Homo sapiens: one gene and its partner. The protein of the gene in region 2 purifies or fractionates together with the protein of the main gene of each other region. This does not show direct contact. Each region holds a gene or a part of one and is shown on either strand. Other genes may lie near its edges.

Evidence for each region.
Region 1: the proteins of SMPDL3B (region 2) and IFIH1 fractionate together in Homo sapiens (co-fractionation; one large-scale study listed by BioGRID). This does not show direct contact.

What each region holds. Positions count from the first base shown.
Region 1 is NC_000002.12:162,284,061-162,287,886, reverse strand, and holds part of IFIH1 (interferon-induced helicase C domain-containing protein 1), read left to right. Parts: intron 1-3,826.
Region 2 is NC_000001.11:27,937,792-27,941,617, forward strand, and holds part of SMPDL3B (acid sphingomyelinase-like phosphodiesterase 3b isoform 1 precursor), read left to right. Parts: intron 1-3,826. UniProt on the Homo sapiens protein: Lipid-modulating phosphodiesterase. Active on the surface of macrophages and dendritic cells and strongly influences macrophage lipid composition and membrane fluidity. Acts as a negative regulator of Toll-like receptor signaling.

The DNA of each region.
Region 1 (3,826 bases), on a different chromosome or scaffold from region 2:
CACCTGGGAGTTAGTTTTGATTCATCTGCTTCCTTTATTTCCCTTATCTGGTCACAGGTTATATTTACCCAGATATACTTTAAGGTTAACTAGCTAATTTATCATTGCAAATGAATATGAATGACCCCAAAATATCACTGGAATCAAGGATCAAATATTGTTTTTTACTTTCTCTTTAGCTGTTGACCCTTAGTCAAAGATGGCAAGTCCTCTTTCTCCAGAATACATATAATGTGGTTTGGAGATAAAATTAAGTGAAGGTTTGGTATCTACATCAAGTTAAATAGATTTTAAAATGCTCAAGAAGTATACATATATATATATAAAATATACACATATTACATTAAATGCAACTGAAGTTTTCCTTCAATAATTTATATCTTAGGGTATTTGAAGGCCATCTTCATAAGTAAATATGTCTGCTTCACCGTAAAACAAAATCTAGTCATTTGAGCTTTATTCAGATAAATGACAGTTTATTAATTTATAAATATACAAATTGGGGATATGAATATTTACTATTTTATGGAATAAAAATGAGCATACTTTTCCTTGATCAGAAAGTCTTTTTTCTGTTCTTATCTATTCCTTTATAAAAAAAAGCAGTAGACTGTAAAATATTCTATTTTTTATTTCTATTATGCTAAAAGTTTTAGTTACATCCTGTTTTTCAGTACTTAGAATCCATGATTTGAATGATTCCTATCATGTAGTTCCAAATGCATTTTGTGTGCATCTGCTAAGTCCAAAGAGCTCTCCTTTATACTTGTATACTTACTATTAAAACACTTTTATTTATTTTGCTGGTAATGGTGACACATTCAAATTTGTTTGCCGATAGACTTGCATATGTATTCCCTTTGTACAGGATATTATTTTTTTAAATGAAATAGGTTTGAATCCTATTTCTACCTACCGGTACTTTGAATTAGACAAATTAGTAACTTCTCTAACTTTAATTTCTTCATCTGCAAAATGAACAAAATAATAACTACCCTGCTCTGAAATTTCAATTGGATTATATATGGCCTAGTAATGACTCCTGCTTTTACTCTTAAATACTAGCTTTCTCCTGCTCCTTTCTCTTCACCTTCATAACTCATGAAACTAAGTAACATAACCAGGGAGGCTTTTAAGTGCCAAATCCAAAGAAAAGAACCAAGTTAACTGGATTCAAAGCTACTTAAACTGATAATTTTGAAACCATTTGAGCATCTGCCATTTTCTCAAACTCAGCCTCACCATCTACCCTCCCAAAGGCTCCTCTTCCCCATTTACCTGTCTCTTTGTGAGTAATACCACCTCCTCCAAAGCATGCAGCCCCCACACCTAGGAGTTAGTTTTAATTCATCTACTTCCTTTATTTCCCTTATCTGGTCACAGGGACATAGGCTAATAGAGTTGAAAAGGGGCTTCGAGATTCAGCTTTCTTCCTTTGCAGAGTGGTTCTCTCACTTCTGCAGGGTAACTTCCTAATATCAAGGAGGTCCCCCTACTAACAAGACACTGACACTCTTAGAAAGCCCTATTTGTATTCATCCAAATCTGTTTCTCTGGAATCCCACAATCACCGGTTAGAGTTCCTTCCTCTGCAACCACACGAAGTCCTAATTCTCCAGCCTAATGACAGCCCTTCACATAGACAAGGCAGCATCATGTGGCTCCTAAGTTACTTTTTTTTGTTGTTCCTTGGAATAAATGTCCACAGTTCCTTTAACTGTTTTCCATATAACATGGTTTCTAAACCTGTCATCATTCCTAGTGCTCATACTCCTTCAGACATTTTTCTGGGACACTCTTAAATGCGGTGTCCAGAGTTGGGCAAAATACTACAGATAAGATCATACCAGTGCAGAGCGTAGGAGACATGAGATATGACACCCAGCTTATGACCGCATTTGCCTCTGGCATCCACAGACTTATCTGGACCTTGTCATAGAATCAAAATCCTCAGTTCCTTTTTATTTGAAAATCTCTTAAACTAGAACATTCTTAATTTATTTTTGTGCAGTCAGTTTCTGAGCCTAAATTCAAATACTTAGGTTTATTTCTTTAACTATTGATCTTTTCAAGTCTCATATTTTTGTATGTGTCTGATGCATCTTCCTTTCTATAATATTCCCTTCTCTTCTCAATGCTATATTCTAGCCAGGAATCTTTCATTGCATTGGATCTACATGATTCTTCGGAATGCACATTTATGGCTATGTTTAAATATTAATTTATCCTCATTAATTATTCACATTCACTGCATTGTTGTGTGGACACCTGGGGACTTGACTCTAATTCCTTATTGCTTTTCTATTGTTTTTCTCCTTAGAATTACTAGAAATCCCTCCACTAATTCTTCCATCTATGTCATAATTGTTTACTATACCATCTTTTTGAATTTTAAATTAATTTCAGTTTTAATTCTTTTTGATTGAGTCAGAACACCTCTGGCCCAGTAAGTCTAAGTAACCTGAATCTTGTGTTTGGCCCAACAACAAGGTATTGTTACCCTTGATCTAGAAAAAAGAAATCCTGTTCTCTAACACCATTTACTTTCATCTCCCTTCCTCCGTCCTTTCCAAAGTTATAGCCTTCGAATGCAGAGAGAAATGAAAACACCACCTGTGTTCCCAGACTTTCCATTTCCTATCTAGGGCTTCAACATCATGAGAGATAAATCCCAGGTTCCTTCAGATGCTGCAATGCAGCCCCATATGATTCAGCAGAAGTGGGTAGCAGTTGGGTTTGATTAGTCTTGGCAGGCACTCTGTCACATCTCAAGAAAAGGCTCCAAGAGGACCACACACCTCCCAATTAGCCATGTCAGACTTGCATCTGGCTTTCTCTGTGTCCTTCAGTAGGAAGTCAACACCACCCAGAGCGAGTATCAGGATTTCCAGCATCTGCTATCTCCTGTGACAACTTCTTTTTGTTCTGTACATCAGAAGGTGCGGCTTCTTTTGAAGATTTTTGACTCACCTTTTATGGGCAGAATTTTGTGGTGCAATGTCACTCCATAATACAGAGATTCTTAATTAAATCATTCAGCATGAGTGTATTTAAAGACAAATCAAATGTAGATCTTGTCCTCACGAAATATACAGTCTAGAAGAAAGATGAGAGATATATGTTGATAATATGATAATTAATATTTTATTGCACTTTATAAAGCACTCTCAGATATATTATCTCATTAAATCTACACAGCAACCCCATAAGGTAGTCTTTATTATTCTCATTTTTTCCCATCAGAAAACTGAAGTTTCAAGACTTTAATTGGCAATTCAGGGATCATCCAGCCAAGAAACAGCAGAAATGAGACACGAACTTTTATCTTCTGAGTCCACTGGTCTTCCTTTGCCACTGCACCCTCCTTCTAGAATAAAAGGATTGGTGAAATATCGTGGAAGTTTTAGTACTGACAATACAGCATCCTCTATTTCATTTAATTTTCACAACCCTATAATAGGTTAACATTATCCTCATTTTATTAATCTGGAAATTGAGAGCATTAAGATGATTGAGACCTTGTCCAAGGTACAAAGAAGTAAGTGGCTGGAGTAGCTGTTTTCAGGGCTTTCTTCCCTCTGCATCATGCTGTCTCTTTCCACTAAACTTAATTTCCATTCTTTTCCTCAGAAGCCTTCTGTCTTGCATAAATGAAATGGAAAGAATACTTCTAGAAAATGATTCAAGAACGGCTTTGTGGAAGAGAGAGAGAAGAGCAGAGCTGTGACTCTCAAATTTTAAAGGCTTAAATGTCATTAAAGTGAAGGTTTCAAGCCTCTGCCCCCCAGAGATTGTCCCTAGATTCAGTAATTCTTGAGTGGGACTT
Region 2 (3,826 bases):
GAGGCAGGAGGTGGGACTGGACTCCAGAGGCAGGGCTTTGACACCAGACCAGATTGAGGACTAGCTAAAATACGGCCTGGGCAAAAGCAGTTTTCAAACACACCCAGCAGTGTGGCATGTCAATTTACCTTTGCAATGGCAACACCCAGGAGTTACTGCCCCTTCTATGGCAGTAACCCAATGATTTAAAAGTTACTACCCCTTCCCTAGAAATTTCTGCATAAATGCCCCTTAATCTCCAGGCAATTAAAAGTGGGTATAAATGTGACTGCAAAACTGCCCTGAGCTGCTACTCTCTGCCTCTGGGGTAGCCCTGCTCTGCAGGAGCAGTCATGGAGCTGTACATCACCTGTTCACCAAAGCTGTTTGCTTCAACCTCAAGCTTGCCCTTGAATTTTTTCCTGGGCAAAGCCAAGAACCCTCATGGGCTAAGCTCCACTTTGGGGCTCACCTGCTCTGCATCACAAGCATCCCTCTGCTGGGTGCATTCTAATCCTCATTTTATAGATGAGGAAACTAAGGCTCAGCTCTGAAAATCCCTTGCTTAAGTTGCCACTGCCTGTATGGAAGAGCCAGGATTCAAAATAAGATGTCCCTGATTGCAGGTTTCATGCATGTCCTTGCAGAAATAACTTACTGCCTGAAGCCAGAAAACTTAGGTCCTACCTGTGGTCCTGCCTTTGAATACCTGTGTGACCTGCAACCTTTATTTTACTGTTTATAAAATAGGGATGTTAGCAGAGGAGAGATTAAATGTGATGGCCTTAAGTGAGATCATGCCAGGTACATTGTAAAATGTTGTAAAAGTTTAAGGAGGCATACACACAGATGGTCCCTGACTTACGAAGATTCCACTAAGCTGTATGATGGGGCGAAAGCCTTAGGCATTCATTAGAAACCACACTTCGAGAAGCCATACAACCACTCTGTGTTTCACTTTCAATTCAGTATTTAATACATTGCAAGAGACATTCAACACTTAATTATAAAATAGGTCTGCATCAGATGATTTTGCCCAACTGTAGGCTAATGTAAGTGTTCTGAGCTCCTTTAAGGTAGACTGGGCTAAGCTACGATGCCCTTTGGTAGGTTGGGTGTGTTGAATGCATTTTTGACTTATGATATTTTCAATTTTGGGGGACGTAGCCCCATTGTAAGTCAAGGAAAACCTGTATATATCTCCAAGGCCATGCTGGTAGGTGGTGGCAGAATATAGTGCACTGTGATCATTTCCATTCTGACGTGCTCGGCATCCCCGGTCTGCCGCTCACTCGCTCAGTTTCCTCATCTGTAAAATGAGTACATCTTAGGATGCATTTCATAATGTTGTCATGAGGCTGCATGGATAGAGTGTGTGGCACAGTGTCTGGCATTCAGTAGGTGCTAAATGAATGGCAGATGCCTTCCTGCCCCCCTGTCTCCAACCATAAGGGAACTCACCTTCTAGCCATTTTAAGAACTTAGGTTTTATAAATGACTATGACTATGGGAGTTCTCCCCACCCCTATCACAAATCATACTAAAAAGATCCCATATCATGTATGATTTTAATTTTTTTATCTTATTTTTCTTTTTTGGAGACAGGGTCTCTATCTGTTGCTCAGGCTGGAGTGCGGTGCTGCAATCATAGCTCAAGGTAACCTCAAACTCCTGGACTTTAGGGATCCTCCTGCCTCAGCCTCCCAAGTACGGAGAAATTAAATTTCTTTTTAAAAAGTAGCTGAGTGTGGTGGCATATACCTGCATTCCTAGTGTGGTGGCTCATACCTGTAATCCTAGCACTTTGGGAGGCCGAGGCAGGCAGATCACTTGAGCTCAGGAATTTGAGACCAGACTGGGCAACATGGCAAACCCCACCTCTACAAAAAAGTACAAGAAAATTTGCCAGGCCTGGTGGCACGTGCCTGTAGTCCCAGCTACTTGGGGGACTAAGGTGGGAGAATCAGTTGAGCCCAGGAGGTTGAGGCTGCAGTGACCCAGGATCACACTGCTGCACTCCAGCCTGGGTTTTTGTTTGTTTGTTTTTGTTTGTTTGTTTGTTTGTTTGTTTTTGTAGAGGCACGGTTTTGAACTCCTGGCCTCAAGTGATCCTCCCACTTTGGCCTCCCAAAGCACTGGGATTACCGGTGTGAGCCAATGCATGTGGCCCATGAGATTTTTAATATTGCTTTTGAAATGAATTGTTGATTTTGATGACTTACTTGATATTTGTAATTTTTGTCTTTCCTGCACTTTTAGAGTCAATGCATTTTTTTCCAAGTCTCAGATATTTCTGTGGGCCTTGCAGAGCTATGAGGCCTTGGGCCCTATGTCTGTTGTCCCTAGTGAGCATAAAGGCCTGGTGATCCCCTTTGGTGAAGGAGGAGGCGGGCCAGGACACTTTTTGCCTGCCCAGGGACGCGCTGTGCCCACCAGTCCTCCTCTTAGAGATGGTCATCTGGGGCAGACAGGCTCTATCTTCATCTTGTTTCCCTTCAGATGTCCTGCCTGCCCTGCCCCTGCACTTTACCTGTGGACAGTAGCCAAGGACACGCTGGGGCTGGCTGGGTAGAACGTGGCCACTCCCCACCTTGTCCTGTCTCTCATGGTGAGAGGGGGCCTTGTAGAACCCCCCAGGAACCAAATGTGGAGTAACCACTGCTTCCCATTTATGAAATCATCTCACATTTCTCATTTTAATTCTCACGAGGGCCCCAAGGGGTAGGGGGCGCTGTTATCTTGATTTTACAGAGGAGGAAACGGGCCCAGGGGAAGGTTCCGCTGTTCACACAGCTATGGGGTGGTGCAGTAGGACTCCCTCCCAGGTCTGTGGCCTCAGCTACTCACTGTACTCAATACCAAATTTATTTATCTTCTCAGTAATAAATGAATAATAATGATAGCTGAGATTGGTGTACCTTTCTATAAAACTCAAGTTATAGATGAATACTGTCTTACTGTAAAAGGTCCAAGCAGTGCGAATGTAGAAAGCCTCTTAACTTTAACAAGATCCCCAGTGAAGCATCTGAACAGTAACATTTGAGAAGTTCTGGTCTAAAGGGTAAAGCATTAAAGTACCCAGGCGCCCACACCTCCCCAGTCTCACTCCTGGCCCAAGGGGTAATTGCAGGTAACGGTATGGTGCGTTGGGATTGTCCTCTATGAGCCCTTTCTCCTTCACTATCTTATTTGATGCTCACTGAGAGGCAGGCCAGATGTCAACATCCTCTAGCTCAGTGAGGCCTGGTGGCTTGCCCAAAGCCCCTAGGCAAACACATGGAAGAGGCTGGATTAGAAACCAGATCTCCCACCTCCCCATCCATGGTCCTGACATGCTAATTAGAGCTTAATTATTTTGATGTAGGGCCTGGAAGCTGATGGATCCCATATTCTTATGGAAAGCATGTATTTATTATTACAGCCACCTTCTGGGCGGCGGGGGGTTCCAAGTCAACAGGCATGACGACATTGTGTCTCAGCTTTGGGGTCAGAGAGGTCTGGGTTTGAGCCTTAGTTTGCTTATCTATGCAGTGGGCATAAGAATCCCTATCTCACAGACTGGCTGCCAGGATGAAATAAGACCAGTGTATGAAAGTCTGGGCACCTATCCAACACTGTCTGAGTGCCTACAATTCTAACTGGCCTCCCCACAGCCTTGTTCATTCATCGAATGTGCATTTGCACGTCTTCCACGTCCCAGGCACCCTTCTAGGCACTGAGGACATAGAGGTAAACAAGACGGGCTTGGTGCTCTCATGGAACTGACATTGTAAACAGGGAAGATGGACAATAAGCAAGCCAACAAGGTAAGTTCACATGTGATAGTGCTCTGAGAAAAAGGAAGCTG